Linked DNA regions of Homo sapiens: region 2 is linked to region 1. Evidence: fine-mapped expression QTL. Tissue or cell type: whole blood. Region 1 holds a variant in brackets; the other region holds the start of a gene. All regions are shown on one strand. Distances are between the middles of the regions.

Region 1 (8,105 bases):
GCTGTCCATTCCCTTACGCAGTGGAAACTCTCCTTGCATTTACTCCCAAGTAATCACCTCGGCCTTGTCACATCCCTTTAGATTCCAGATTGAAAATTGAACAGAGCATTTCAAAATTAAAAAGTTTTGAAAATCCAGGTGGGGAAAATGGATCTGACTAAACAGGAGAGAAATTTCTTCCTCTTCCCCTATTCTACGTGCTTCTGTGGATATAGAAAGGGGCACCCCCAGCCCCAGCAAGGGAGCCAGGCATCCATCTACTTAAGTAAAGTTGGCTGTGGTAAGGGGTTAGACTAAAATTCTCCGCAGATGCAGAGGAGAAGGAATGAATTCCAGCTGAGAGACCTGGCCGATGCATGGGATTTGTCTTCAAGGTCCAGGCAGAGGGGATGGCAGATGCCAAATTGCAGAAGTCGAAGAGGGCCCAGTATGGTTGGTCTGTAAAGTAGGTATATAATAGTATCTACTTAATCTGTGAGATTGAAAGAGATTAACATGTATAGAGTGCCTAGCACGGTAGTAACTGCTCAATAAACGTTAGCCATTATTATTGCCGTTGTAGTGTTTGTTGTTGTTATGATCATCATCATCTGCCCAGGAACGTGCCCAGGGCTGCACAGCTAGTAAGTGGCAGGGGATGATTCAAATGCAAACCCAGGTAATGCCGAATACCATGCATGGTCTGCCCCTACCCCACACAGCCTCTCCAGTTCTTTTCTTTTTTTTTTTTTTTTTTTTTTTTTTTTTTTTTTTTGAGACAGGGTCTTACTCTGTTGCCCAAGCTGGAGTGCAGTGGCGTGATCTCGGCTTGCTGCAGCCTGACCTCCCAGGCTCAAGCGATCCTCCTACCTCAGCCTGTGCAGCTGGGACTGCAAGCACGTGTTACCATGCCCAGCTAATTTTTTTTTTTCTCTATAGAAACGAGGTCTCATTATGTTGTCCAGGTGGTCTCAAACTCCTGAACTCAAGCGATCCTCCCACCTGGGCCTTCCAAGTGCTGGGATTACAGGCATGAGCCACTGAGCCTGGCCTGTCTCCAGTTCTTTCTGCCCATCCTTGACATTTCTGAGGCCCAGGAGTGGCCTCTCTTTGTCAACATTCACAGTGAGTCATGACAGGAGTTTCTTTCCTGCCGAGTTACAGAGATTCTGGGTTCATGATGAGGCAGGAAAAACAAGGCCTGAACAGCCATCTTCTTCCAGGCAGAATCACAGCACAGAAGATAGGCAGACCTGGCCGGGCGCGGTGGCTCACGCCTGTAATCCCAGCACTTTGGGAGGCTGAGGTGGGTGGATCATTTGAGGTCAGGAGCTTGAGACCAGCCTGGCCAACGTGGTGAAACCCCGTCTCTACTAAAAATACAAAAATTAGCCGGGCATGGTGGCACGCACCTGAAATCCCAGCTACTCAGGAGGCTGAGGCAGGAGAATCACTTGAACCTGGGAGGCAGAGGTCGCAGTGAGCCAGGATCACGCCACTGCACTCCAAACTGGGTGACAGAGCGAGACTCTATCTCAAAAAAAAAAAATAGGCCTAGTGGTGTGGTTTCTGTGGGTGGTGGCTCTATCCAGACTGCCCACCCAGGCTTAGATTCTAACTCCTCCACCACTTAGCCCTGGTTGGCATCCTCACCCTTCAAAATTCAGAAACACTTGGGAAGGAAAATTATGAGCTTTTCACACTTCTAAGTAGTAGTAGTAAATCTGTAACTTACTAAATCTGGCGACTTATTGGGGTCTGGCACAATGACTGTAACTTTACATCTATTGGCCCTATGAAGAAGTGTTCTTCCCCCCTCTTTTAAAATACAAATATTTTTAAAATTTTCAAGCTTACATAAAAGCTTAAAGTACAACCCTTAACCTAGATACGCCAAATCACAATTTGCCAATTGTGCTTTTACACAAACACACACTTTTTTGGCCCAATTATTTAAAAGTAAGTTACAGATATGTTGATTGACGTTTGACCCCTAAATTCTTCAACATGTATCCCCTAATAAGGGCGTTCTACTACATAGCCATAATACATTATATGTAATAAGCAAGAAGTCAGTATTACCCAATGTAATAGTTATTCAAAATTTTCTGCCAGGTGCAATGGGTCATGTCTATAACCCCAGCACTTTGGGAAGCAAAGGCAGACAGATTGCTTGAGCCCAGGAGTTCAAGGCCAGCCTGGGCAACATAGTGAAACCCCATCTCTACAAAAACTACAAAATTTAGCATGGTGTGGTAGCGTGCACCTGTAGTCCCAGCTACTTGGGAAAATCACCTGAGCCTGGGGATGTCAAGGCTGCAGTGAACCATGATCGCGCCACTGCACTCCAGCCTGGGCGACAGAGTGAGACCCTGTCTCAAGAAAAAAAAAATTCTAATTGCCCAAAAATACCTTATATAGTTTCTGGTTTTTAAAATCAGATCCAGTCAAGATGTACATATTGCATCCTATTATATCTCTTTTATCAACTCATTTAATCTAAATAGAGCCCCTTGGCATGGTAGCTCATGTCTGTAATCCCAACATTTTGGGAGGCTGAGGTGGGCAGATCACTTGAGGTCAGGAGTTCGAGACCAGCCTGGCCAACATGGTGATACCCCATCTCAAGTAAAAATACAAAAATTAGCCGGACATGGTGGTGTGTGCCTATACTCCCAGCTACTCAGGAGGCTGAGGCAAGAGAATTGCTTGAACTCAGGAGGTGGAGGTTGCAGTGAGCCGAGATTGTGCCACTGCACTCCAGCCTGGGCAACAGAGTGTGACTCTATCTCAAATAAATAAATAAATAAATAAATAGAGCTTCTCCACCTATTTAAATATGTTTGATTGGTTTATCAATGATTAGATTGGGGTTAGATTTAAGTTTTTGGCAATGTGTGTACTTACTGCATGTCAGGAGGATATGATGTCAGGGTCTTACTATCCATGAATGCTAAATTTGATTATTAAGGTCATGGCAACCTGATCTCTCTATCGTAAAGGTAAATTTTTCTCTCTTACAATTAATAAGTAATCTGTGAAGTGATTCTCTGAGTCTGTTATAATTATGTGTTCCTGATAACCTTTCACACCACATCCTTGGATGATCCTTGCTTGAATTACAACACTGAGGGTTGCAAATTGGTAATTTTCTAATTCTGCCATTCCTTCTGTGTTTATTAGTGTTCTTTTTTATAGAATTAATTTTTCCTGGCCGGGTGCGGTGGCTCACGCCTGTAATCCCAGCACTTTGGGAGGCCGAGGCGGGCGGATCACGAGGTCAGGAGATCGAGACCATCCTGGCTAACAAGGTGAAACCCTGTCTCCACTAAAAATACAAAAAATTAGCCGAGCGAGGTGGCGGGCGCCTGTAGTCTCAGCTACTCGGGAGGCTGAGGCAGGAGAATGGCGTGAACCCTGGGAGGCGGAGGTTGCAGTGAGCCGAAATCACACCACTGCACTCCAGCCTGGGCGACAGTGAGACTCCGTCTCAAAAAAAAAAAAAAAGAATTAATTTTTCCTGTCTCTATCTTTCTCACTCCCTTCTTCTCACCCTCTTTTTTCTTTTGGGAATAACATTATGGACTCTTGTTTTTTGTTTGTTTGTTTTTGAGATGGAGTCTCACTCTGTTGCCCTGGCTGGTGTGCAGTGGCACGATCTTGGCTCACTGCAACCTCCACTTCCCAGATTCAAGCGATTCTCCTGC[C/G]TCAGCCTCCCAAGTAGCTGGAATAACAGGCGCACGCCACCCCGCCCAGCTATTTTTTGTATTTTTAGTAGAGATGGGGTTTTGCCATGTTAGCCAGGCTGGTCTTGAACTCCAGACCTCAGGTGATCCGCCCGCCTCGGCCTCCCAAAGTGCTGAGATTACAGGCATGAACTACCGCACCCAGCCTGGACTCTTGTTTTGTTGTTGTTGTTTTTTAATTCACTGGGCTATATGAACTCACCTTGAACTTTTCCTGTGAAAGTCCAGGAATCATCAGTTTCTCCAGGAAGCCCTGGTTTCTTTTAGAAGAGATGATGACATTCAGAAACAAAGATCCAGGGCTAGGTGTGTTTATTGCTACTGGGTGTCATTTCTAGGCTCTGTGAGTGAGCAGAGCTAGGAAATGATGGATAGGTGATTGATAGATAGATGATAGATGGACAATTTTCATTACTCAGTACATTTATTGTTACAACAGCTAGTCCCCACTGACAGGATTGCATGGTAAGTCATTTCATTATGGAAGTAATGCTCATTATGGAAGTGGACAGTAATGTAGGAAAAAAGGAAATTGCACAGAAAAGAGCTCTTGCCTACTCCAGGTCGCCATGAGTATACAGACTGTTGGCTAGGACCTCTGTGGCTGGGTTCAGCTTCCTGCCGAAGACGTCTAAAGGACTGGTTCTCTGAAGGGTGTCCAAACCAGAACTTCCCAGAGGCCATGACTCTGAGGTCAAGAATCCACATGAAGCCCTGGGCAAGGGATTCACGCTCTTTGGGTCTGCTTTAGGTTGTCTTTGAAACAAAGACAATGTAATCGGTCCTGCCTGGGTCCCAGAGTTGTAAGGATCAATATATTTATCAATATGTTTATTTTTAAACATTGCTAGTTGTGTCTCTTCACATTTATTACCAAATTCCTTCTCTTCTCATTGTTTTAAAACCACAGAGGGAAATGTCATTGCTTTATAATCTAGTTTAATACATTGCGCTAAGATGTCTTATTCAAATACTCTTTCAGGTTATCAGTCATCAGTGCTTCCAGATTAAAATTTTAATTATTTAAATCTTTTTTGAAAAATACTATTGGGATTTGGATTAGGATAGCATAACAACTATAATTAATTTTGAGGGGGGGGGGGTGCTTTGGGATAAGGCCTGGCTCTGTCACCCAAACCAGAGTGCAGTGGCACAGTCTTGGCTCACTGCAACCTCCACCTACTGGGACAAAACCAATTATTAAAATAGAAGAAGTTCCTATAGCTATTATCACTTGGGAAATTACACAGTTTTTAGCCCTGGCCAACAGCTGGGGACAAATCTAAAATGTATATTGCTTATTATATCACAGTATCACACAACCCCTCCCCTGAGTGCAAGGCGGTGACTATGCAGACGTGAGACATGCAGTTGCTCTCAGCTCACAAACTAGGCAGTGGTTTCCAAAAAAAATTGTTTTGTCAGCCACAGTATGAAGATACCATGATCCAGTTCATAGACACACAACTGAAACAAAAGTTTCACAACAATATATAATTGGTTACAACCCACTTAACTGTATTGATGTCATGACTTGCCAATAGGTCACAACCTTCATTTTTTTTCCTGTTTATGGAGGTAAAACTTAAGTATGGTAAAATTTACACTTTTTTTTTAATTGAGACAGGGGTCTTACTATGTTTTCCAGGCTGGTCTTGAACTCCTGGGCTCAAGTGACCCTCCTGCCTCGGCCTCTCAAAGTACTGGGATTATAGGCATGAACCACCACAGCTGGCCACAATTCACCCTTTTAGATGTGTATGGTTACATGAATTTTGACAGTCTTTATAAACACATTTGACCACCACCACATCATATTACTTTTGTGCCAACCTAATAGAATATTCCCATCACTCCAAAATATGCCTTGTGTTTCTTTGTAACCAGTCTTTTCCCTCCAACCCAGCCCCAAGAATTCACTTAATCTGATTTCTGTCTTTATAGTTTTGCCTTTGCCAGAACGTTATACAGATAGAGTCATGTACCATGTAACCTTCTGAGGCTGGCTTCTTTCACTTGACGTAATGCTTTTGAAATTCATGTATGTGGTAATGTCTTTTAGTAGTTCCTATATATTGCTGAGTCATATTCTATTGTATGGATGTACTGCAATTTATCTGTTTACAATTAGTTGTTTCTGAGTTTGGGCAATTATGAATAAGCTGCCATAAACATTCACATATGAGTCTTTGCATGGACATATGTCTCCATTTCTCCGGCATAAATACCTAGGAGTAGGGTCATTGGGTCACGTGATAATTGTATGCTGTATTAGTCCATTCTCACACTGCTAATAACAACATACCCCAGACTGGCTAATTTACAAAGGAAAGAGGTTTAATTGACTCACGGTTCCACAGGACTAGGGAGGCCTCAGGAAACTTAAAATAATGGTGGAAGGGGAAGCAAACATGTCTTTCTTCACATGGCAGCAGCAAGGAGAAGTGCCAAGCGAAGGGGGAAACCCCTTATAAAACCATCAGATCTCTTAAGAACTCACTATCACAAGAACAGCATGAGGAAAACCGCCCCAATGATTCAATCATCTCCACCTAGTCCTGCCCTTGACACATGGGGATTATTACAATTCAAGGTGAGATTTGGGTGGGGACACAGAGCCAAACCATACCATATGTCAAACTATTTTCAACAGCGGTTACCATTTGTCAGCAGTGTATGAGGTTTCCATTGTTCTATGTACTCACCTTCAATTGGCATTGTCAGTTTTTATATGAGCCACTAATAGGTATATAGTAGCATATAATTGTGGTTTCAATTTTCATACTCTCATGACTGATGATATTGACCATCTTTTCATGTGATTGTCAGTCATCTGCATATCTTCTTTGCTGGAGTATTTGTTAGATCTTTTGTCTAGTTGTTTTGTTTTTGTTTTTGTTTAAGTAGAGATAGGGTTTCACCATGTCGGCCAGGCTGTTCTTGAACTCCTGGCCTCAAGTGATCTGCCCGCCTCAGCCTCCCAAAGTGCTGGGATTACAGGCATGTGCCACTGCACCCAGCTTTATGTGTTTTTTAATTGGGTTATTTTCTTACTGAGTTTTGAGAGTTCTTTATATATTCTGGTTAACAATCCTTTATCAGATAGGTGTTTTGCAAATATTTTCTCCATCTGTGTCTTATTCTTTCATTTTCTTAACAGTGTCTTTTGAAGAGCAGAAGTTTTTTACGTGGATGAAGTCTAGTTTATTGATGTTTTTAATGGTTTGTCCCTTTTAGGTCCTATCCAAGAAATCTTTGCCTAATCCACAGTTGCAAAGATTTTCTCCTAGAAGTTGTGTAGTTTTAGATTTTATATTTAGGTCTATGATATGTTCTGAGTTTATTTTTCATAAACAGCATAAGAGATGGACCAAGGTTCTTTTTTTCCCCATATGGATGTCCACTGATCTGCATTTTGAGATAGCCAGGGAAGAGGGCCATGTGCAAAGGAGATCGCTGCAGGTGGAATGCTGGGTGCTGCCAGAGGGGGTTGTGCAAGGCACCAGGAAGCCCTGAGAGGAGAGCTGTTAACCTAGTGGAGATCTGGGGACAGTAGTACAGAGGTGATGACTCATAGGCTGGGCCTGAAAGGTAGACAGCAGAGAGGGTAGAGAAGGTAGACAGGGGTGGTCTAGGGACAGCAAAGGCAGGGCAGGTGTCAGCATGAAGGAGACTGACTCAGTGGCGTCTGGCGTGCGTGGAGGGCAGGGTTAGACATGAGAGGGAAAGAGGAAGGTGGTTGGGCAGGGACGGTACTTCAGGAAGGTCAGTCTGCAGACCAGAAAGGAAGGTGGACAGAAGGCAGGGAGCCGAGTGAGGATGTAGGGGTGCAGGGGGCAGGGATGAGGCCTGAGCTCTGGGAGTAGCTATAGGGATGGGTTCAAGGAGATAGTCAAGACAAACTGTAGGGCTGAAGAGTCGGGGCTGCTTCCCTCAGGCAGTTGGGTGGCTCAGAAGAGTTCACAGCAGAGTTAGGGGCAGAGGAAGGCACAGGTGAGGCTTCTGGTACCTGTGTTACTGGTGGAGGGTCTTGACTAGGAATTTTCCAGGTCCTTGGCGTTTTGAACAAAGTAGCAGAGGGGCAGACGTGGTAATCCCCACACTTTGGGAGGCCTGGATGGGCAGATCACTTGAGGTCAGTCCAAGACCGGCCTGGCCAACGTGGTGAAACCCGTCTCTACTAAAAAAAAAAAAAGTAAAAATAAAAAGAGTAGCAGGGGAATGAAATGCAGGAATGAAGCAGTGAAAGCAGGAATTAAAGTGAGAAAGCACTCCTCAGGGTGGGAGTGGGCCGGAGCAAGGAACTCAAAGGCCCAGTTACAAAGTTCTCTGGGCTTTAGGTACCCCATTTGAGGTTCTTATCAGCTACTCCTTATCTGG
Region 2 (8,105 bases), 100 kb after region 1:
TGTTGAGAAGATTTAAAGGAGGGGCTACAAAGTAGAAGGTCATCAATATATTGAATAAGGTGAGAAGCAGAGGGGTGGAAAGAAAGTAAATCATGAGAAAGAGCTTGGCTGAAGGAATGAGGGCTGTCCCTGAAGCCTCGTGGCAGTACAGCCCAGGTAAGTTGCTGGGACTGATGGGTGTCAGGGTCAATCCAGGTAAAAGCAAAGAGGGCTGGGACGAGGGGTGCAGGGGAATAGTGAAAAAAGCATCTTTAAGATCAAGAACGGAATAGTTGTGGAGGAAGGTATTGAGGACAAAAGAGTGTACGGGTTGGGCACCACAGAGTGGATAGGCAAAACAATTTGGTTGATAAGGCACAGATCCTGAATTAACTTGTAATACTTGTCCGGTTTTTGGACAGGTAAAATGGGGGAATTGTAAGGAGAGTTTGGAGGCTTTAGAAGCCCATACTGTAGCAGACGAGAGATAATAGGCTTTAGTCCCTTTAAAGTCTGTTGTGGGATGGGACACTGGCACTGAGGGGGGTAAGAGTGATTAGGTTTTAATAGGATAGTAATGGGTGTGTGATCGGTTGCTAGGGAGGGAGTAGAGGTATCCCATACTTGTGGGTTAAGGTGGGGGGATACAAGAGGAAGAAGTGAAGGAGGCTTTGGGTTGGGAAGAAGGGTGGCAATGAGATGTGGCTGTCGTCCAGGAATAGTCAGGGTGGTGGATAATTTTGTTAAAACATCTCAACCTAATAAGGGAACTGAGCAGGTGGGAATAACTAAAAAGGAGTGCATAAAAGAATGTTGTACAAGTTGTCACCAAAGTTGGGGAGTTTTAAGAGGTTTAGAAGCCTGGCTGTCAATACCCACAATGGTTATGTGGGCAAGGGAAACAGGTCCTTGAAAATAAGGTAATGTGGAGTGGGTAGCCCCTGTATCGATTAAAAAGGGGACAGACTTACCCTCCACTGTGAAAGTTACCCGAAGCTTGGCATCCATGATGGTCCAGGGGGCTTCCAAGGTGATTGGGCAGCGTCAGTCTTCAGCCACTAAGCTGAGCAGGTCTGGTAAGGAGTCAGTCAGAGACCCTTGGGCCAGAGCTTTAGGGGCTGGGCTCTGGAAGTGGCTGCCGGGTGAGCTGGGCGGTCTGATTTCCAGTGGGTCACTGCACAGATGGAACATGGCTTGGGAGGAATCCTGGGCTGCAGGCATTCCTTGGCCCACTGGCCAGATTTCTGGCACTTGAAGCAAGATCCTGAGGGAGGAGGTCCTGTAGGAAAGCCTGACCACTGCAGCTTAGGCATTTTGAAGTTCTTGTGTGCCGGAGGTGCAGCTGGGTTTTGTCTCACAGCAGAGGCAAGTAATTGTAACTCAGAAATGTGTTTCTGCTTGGCTGCCTCTTCTCTATTATTGTACACATTGAAGGCGAGGTTGATTAATTCCTGTTGTGGGGTTTGAGGGCCAGATTCAAATTTTTGAAGCTTTTTTCTGATGTCAGGAGCTGACTGGGTGATGAAATGCATATCAAGAATAAGACAGCCTTCTGGCCCTTCAGGGTCTAGGGCTATAAAGCATCTAAGGGTAGCCACCAAACAGGCCATGAACTGGGCTGGGTCTTCATCTTTACCTTGGGTAGTTTCTTTAAGTTTGTCATAATTAACAGATTTGTATGCTGCCTTTTTAAGCCCTTCAACTAGGCAGGAAATCATGTAATCTCACCTAGCTATACCTGAGGAACCTGCCTGATAGTGCCACTGGGGATCTTCTCAGGGAACCGTCTGTAATACCTTCCTGGAGGCCTGGCTCATAATGCCAGTGGGTGTCTGTGTGGGACTAGGCTAGAGGAAACACTCTTTCCCATTCATCTGGGGAGAGGGTAGAAATTAGGATGACATTTAAGCCACTCCAGGTTAAATTGTAAGACTGGGTTAAATACTGGAATTCATGTATATATTTGGTGGGGTCTGACGAGAAGGAGCCTAAGTGTTGATTAATTTGGGAAAGGTCTGATAGAGAAAATGGTACATGCACTCTGACGATGCCCTCAGTTCCAGCCACTTCTTGAAGAGGAAATTATTGGGCAGGTGGGGGAGTATTTGCCGCAGAACGAAATTGTAAGCTGGACCAGGTGTGGGGAGGGGAGATGATAGAAGGGTTGTAGGGTGGGGAAGTGGAGGCTGAGGAAGAGTTGGAAGCTGATTCAGCCTGGTGGGGAGCGACCTGAGGAGGAGCAGTCTAGGGAGGAGGGTAGAAGTCAGATGGGTCGGTAGAAAAGAAATATTCAAAAGACTCACCGGCACTTCAGGTTGGGACTGAAGGGACAGGCGGGAGGGAAAGAAGGAAGATTTGCGGCAAGTCGCACTGGGAACAGAGATTAGGGAAGGAACGAAGTGTAAAAAATGCCTGGATGTAGGGCACCTCAGACCATTTGCCCATTTTATGACAAAAATTATCTAGATCTTGTAGGCTGGAGAAATCGAAAGTGCTCTTTTCTGGCCATTTAGAGCCATTATCAAGTTTGTATTGGGGCCAAGTGGTGTTGCAGAAGAAAATAAGACACTTAGGTTTTAGGTCAGGTGAGAGTTGAAGAGGTTTTAAGTTTTTAAGAACACAGGCTAAGAGAGGAAGAAGAAGGAATGGAGGGCTGAAGGTTGCCCATAGTAAAAAGGTAAGTTTAGAGAAAGGAGGAGGTTGAGACATGGAGAGAGGGGGGGTGGTACTTGCCACCCAGGGGAAGTGGTACTTGCCACCAAGGTGGAAGATCAAAACAGGTGTCCCCGCAGTGATCGAACACCTCTGAAATGTGGGTGAATAATCAGGCAGGCGTCCCTGCAGTGACTAAACACAAGGGAAGACAGTCTTCCCGAGTCCATGACCAGCGCCAGAGTTTTGGGTCCACAGATAAAACGGGTCTCCTCTGTCTCTACCAGACAGGGAAAGGAACCGAAATTAAGGGAAGGGAGAGACTGAAGGGTGGTGCCGAAATTGAAAGGAGAAAGAGGTTGAGGGATAGTGAAAGAGGTTGAAGAAGAGAGTAGAAAGAGGCCACTTACCCGATTTAAAATTGGTGAGATGTTCCTTGGGCTGGTCTGAGGACCCGAGGTCGTAGGTAGATCTTCCTCACGGAGCAAAGAGCGGGAGGACAGGGGATTGATCTCCCAAGGAAGGTCCCCCGATCCAAGTCATAGCACCAAATGTCAAATGCATCCGTGTGAAGAGACCACCAACAGGCTTTGTGTGAGCAACAAGGCTGTTTATTCACTTGGGTGCAAGTGGGCTGAGTCCGAAAAGAGAATCAATGAAGGGAGATGGGGAAGGGGTTGCTTTATAGGATTTAGGTAGGTAATGGAAAATTACAGTAAAAGGTGGTTGTTATCTATTGTTAGCAGGGGAGGGGGTCACAAGGTACATGATGGGGAGATCATAAGACTTATTGTCCAGAAGAAGAATGTCACAAGGATGGTTGATCAGTTAAGGTAGGGCAGGGACCAGTCACAATGGTGGAATGTTTGTTAATCAGTTAAGGCAGGAAGTGGCTGTTTTACTTCTTTTGTGGGTTTTTGGCTGCCCCAGACTTCTTGGCTCCCGCAGGCCATCTGGACGCATATGTGCAAGTCACAGGGGTTACAATGGTTGAGCTTCGGCTGAGAGGCCTGACAGCAGAGACTGGAAAATTGCTTAACAGAATTATAAATTCCTTCTTTCATTACTCAAACCTTTTTTTTTTTCTTTTTGAGACGAAGTTTCGCTCTTGTTGACCAGGCTGGAATGCAATGGTGCGATCTCGGCTCACTGCAACCTCCACCTCCCAGGTTCAAGCGATTCTCCCCCCTCAGCTTCCCGAGCAGCCGATTATGCTGCCTCAGCCTTCCCAGTAGCTGGGACTACAGGCACCCGCCACCACGCCCAGCTAATTTTTTGTATTTTTCGTAGAGATGGGATTTCACCATGTTGGCCAAGCTGGTCTTGAACTCCTGAAGTGATCCGCTCACTTCAGCCTCCCAAAGTGATGGGATTACAGGCGTGAGTGACGGCGCCTGGCCTCATTACTCAAACCTTTAGGGAACACCTCCTCACTCAGCCATGTGTAACGACGTGAAGACCCAGAGGTGAAACATTTTAGGGTGCTGCCTCCGAATCTGAATTTCAACAATAGACTAAAACGATCCAGTCCTGGGCTTCTCTAAATTCTTTTGTTGCTGGCCAGACCTTAATTTTAGGCTTTGGAGGGAGTGTCTATGCGAATGAACGACTGAAAACTCAGAAAACGAAAACTAGCTTTTATGGAATTTCAATTAATTACGTTTATCAAAACTACGCATCATGCCCATTTGTGGGTATTGGATGAAAAGATAAATCTTTCCAGAAGGGGCAGGGGAGGGAGAGGCAATTCTGGTTGGGGAAGTTGGGAGAAAAGAAAATCAGTATCTCCTAGTCTTCGCCCAGTTTGGCTCGTTTGGGGTACTCCTCGACCCCGCGTTACCAGGCCCGTGAATCCCACTCCCACCAGAGAATTAGCGCGGGCGGACGAGCAAAGTGAAACTTAGTAGCCCGGAACTTCGCGTGCCGGGTTCCCGCAGCAACACGTACCGGGAAGCGTTTGGGCGCTGCACCGCGCTGCGCCGTGCCCGTGAGTCCGGCGCGCAGAGGAGGAGGAGAAAGCTGACCGCTTAGGCCGGGGTAGTGGTCGTCGTGGTTTTCCTTGTAGTTCGTGGTCTGAGACCAGGCCTCAAGTGGAAACGGCGTCACCATGATCGCACGGCGGAACCCAGAACCCTTACGGTTTCTGCCGGATGAGGCCCGGAGCCTGCCCCCGCCCAAGCTGACCGACCCGCGGCTCCTCTACATCGGCTTCTTGGGCTACTGCTCCGGCCTGATTGATAACCTAATCCGGCGGAGGCCGATCGCGACGGCTGGTGAGTGCTGCGCGGCCGGGATCGGCTGGGAGGAGAAGGGGTCGTAGGGCTGCAGACTGGCCCGGCCGTAGGCCCCCCTGAGGTGCTCTGCTTTTCCGTGCCTTTTTGCCTAGCTGGCCCCATCTCGCCTTTCCGGGGAGTCCGCGCCCCATTAGCTCTTTAGAATCAAGCAGAGCCAGAGTGTCATTTGGCACTTGAAGAAACTGAGGTGCAGTGAAGCAGGAACTGAGTCTGTGAAGGACCCGAAACTACTCTCCTCAGTTCGTGTTGTGCTGTGTGCGCAAATGAGCCATGACTCCATGCCATGCACTACTCACACTGTGGGCATTATTGATAGCATTTCGGCCTTAAAACACTTTTAGGGATGTATTATTCACAACGAGGAAACCGAGCCTAACAGATTAACAGCAGCTTGCCCAAGGTCATATGGCTATTAAGTAGCAGAGCTTGGTTTTTTTTTTTTTTGACCTCTGAATGGATATTGGACACCAGTGCTTCTCAAACTTAATGTGCATACGAATAGCATAGGTGTCTTGTTAAAATTCGGATTCTGGGCTGCGCGAGGTGGCTCACACCTGTAATCCCAGCGCCTTGGGAGGCCGTGGCGGGCGGATCGCCTGAGCTCAGGAATTCGATACCAGTATGGGCAATAGGGCGAAAACCCGTCCCTACAAAAAAATACAAAAGTTAGCCGGGCGTGGTGGTGCACGCCTGTGGTCCCAGGCTGAGGGAGGCTGAGGCAGGAGGGTCGTTTGAGCCTGGAAGGCAGAGGTTGCAGTAAGCCGAGATTGCACCATTGCACTCCAACCTGTGCAACAAAGTGAGACCCTGTCTCAAAAAAAAAAAAAAAGCGGATCCTGATTCATGAGGTCTGGGGAGGAACTTGATGTTAACAACAAGCGCTCAAACACTGCTGCTGCTGGTCTGAGGACCACGGTTTGAATAGGAGGCTCTAAACCAGTGTGCTGTACTTCCCAGTAGTATGTCACTGGCTTCCTATCAGAGACACTGACTATTCTGATAATAACCACCACAGTAGCTTTGCTAAGCTCTATGGATTTCCAGAGGGAAAAGAGGAGAGGAACTTTGGAAGAGGGGTCTTTGAAGTTAACTTTGATTATCAGGCAGGACTGAGAGACAGACAGCTTTCTAGGCCCGTGGGGCTAGTGGGAGCTAATGGGGGCAAGGACCTCTGAATGGAGGGTGTTTGATGATTGAGTGAGTGTTCAGGTTTAGATAAAACTGCAAGGGAGATTTTAGCAGAGCATGGCAATTTATTTTCTAGGCAGTCAGGAACTTTGTAAGCTTTTGAGAGCTGCAAGGGTGCAGTGATGAGCTCTGTATTTTAAAAAGTCATCTTTGTCAGCAATGTGAGGCGTTGATTGGAGCCAAGAAGCACAATCAGGAAAAAAGCTCAGGCAATGGTTCAGGCAATTAGGAGTCACCACACTTGTACCTCTTTTGCCTTCTTACAGCTGTATGTCATGCCTGAAGGTCAGCTCCCAACCCATCAAATCCCACATTTCCAGTGCTCAAATAGTATTGAAGTCCTATCTCCCTTGGACATAACTCCTCACTTCAGAAAGGAGTCATCTTTGTCCGTTTATGCCTCTGAGGACTCGAGGTTTTCCCTTTTCATCACCACTTCATATTTGCCCAAGACTGTCACTTGGTGTAATGAAAAGAGCTCCACTTTGGAACTAAACAAACTTGCTCACTAGGCACAGGCACTGTGGTTCACACCTGTAATCCCAGCACTTTGGGAGACCAAGGCAGGAACATCTCTTGAGGCCAGGAGTTCAAGACCAGCCTGGGCAACATAGTGAGACCCTGTCTCTACAAAAAAATTTAAAAAATTAGCCAGGCATGGTGATGTGCACTTGTAGTCCCAGGTACTCAGGAAGCTAAGGGAGGAGAATCACTTGAGCCCAGGAGGTTGAGGCTGCAGCGAGCCACGATTGCACCACTGCACTCCAGCCTGGGCAACAAAGTTGAGACCTTGTCTCCAATAAATAAATAAATAAACAGACTTGCTCTGCTGCTTTCCAGCTGTGTCACTTTGGGCAAGTTACATGGTCAGGTCGATCAGAGCCAAAGTTTCCTCATCTATAAAATAAGAATAATTAATTTTTGCATATTTGTTGTGAGAATTGAGTGAGATTCTGTAGGTAAAATGTCTGACATGCAAAAGGTGCTGGACAGAGTTCCCCTTCCTTAGCTCTTGTTATGCAAACAGTTTACCATATATTTGTAAATTGTTCATTTACAGAACCCTTTTTTTTTTTTTGAGACAGGGTCTCACTCTGTCACCCAGGCTAGAGGGCAGTGGTGCACTCATGGCTCACTGCAGCCTCGACCTCCTGGGCTCAGGCGATCCTCCTATCCTAGCCTTCCAAGTAGCTGGGACTACAGGTACATACCACCAGGCCTGGCCAATTTTAAAATTTTTTGTAGAGATGGGGTCTTGCCATCTTGGCCAGGCTGGTCTCAAACTTCTGGCCTCAAGTGATCCTGCCACCTCGGCCTCCCAGAGTGCTGGGGTTATAGGTGTGAGCCACTGTGCCTGGCCTTACTTAACTGTTTCTCTGTTATGTGCCCTATGGAGCTCCTAGTGAAATCAGGGAGACAAACAGGTAAACAGCCTGTTGCTGATCTTGGTATGATAGATACATGTTTTGATAGAGGTGGGTGAGCAGAAAGCACTTTAGGAGCACAAAGGAGATACAGTTGGGAGGGAGAATGCTCTAGAGGAAGTAAAGGTTGGCTGAAATGTGACGTATGTACCACTTAATCTCGTTGTTAGTTTAGCCGTTTGTGCCTTTCTGGGAGACAGAAGAGTATAGCAGTTAAGAGCATATGCTTTGGGGTTTGACATCACCTCCACCCTACTAGTAATTTGATTCTGAGGAAGTTACCTATCTCTGAGGACTGGATGAGATAATGAATATAAACTGCTTAGCCCAGGAGTAGGGATCAGACTTCCTGAGTTCCCAGAGCTTCCCTAAATTGCTTTGGAAGATTTAGGTCCTAGGACTTTGTTGAAATGGTTGTCCTCAACAGCATTTACTGAATGCATATTGTGTTTATCTAGCTCAGTGTCTAATATCTATAGTAGGTGTTCAGTAAGTATTGAGTGAGGTCACGTGTGGTGGCTCATGCCTGTAATCCCAACATTTTGGGAGGCTGAGGCGGGTGGATCAC

What was found. PIP is the estimated chance that this variant, and not a neighbour inherited with it, causes the effect.
Region 2: NDUFC2 starts here. The variant in region 1 is fine-mapped to the expression of NDUFC2 in whole blood (TOPMed, PIP above 0.99).

What each region holds. Positions count from the first base shown.
Region 1 is chr11:78,179,021-78,187,125 of GRCh38, reverse strand. All of the region lies in intron 1 of KCTD21 (potassium channel tetramerization domain containing 21), which reads left to right. Among named protein-coding and RNA genes, the nearest start is that of KCTD21, 5.6 kb to the left of the region's middle. RefSeq lists an enhancer at 7,180-7,679. The variant C/G (reference allele first, on the strand shown) is at 3,687.
Region 2 is chr11:78,076,378-78,084,482 of GRCh38, reverse strand. It overlaps NDUFC2 (NADH:ubiquinone oxidoreductase subunit C2), which reads left to right and starts at 4,621. Exons shown (of 3, transcript NM_004549.6): 1 at 4,621-4,904. The coding sequence starts at 4,739. It overlaps NDUFC2-KCTD14 (NDUFC2-KCTD14 readthrough), which reads left to right and starts at 4,621. Exons shown (of 3, transcript NM_001203262.2): 1 at 4,621-4,904. The coding sequence starts at 4,739. LOC105369401 (a long non-coding RNA gene) reads right to left here and starts at 3,288. Exons shown (of 3, transcript XR_950342.2): 1 at 3,042-3,288; 2 at 951-1,153. RefSeq lists a silencer at 4,449-4,638 and an enhancer at 4,842-4,901.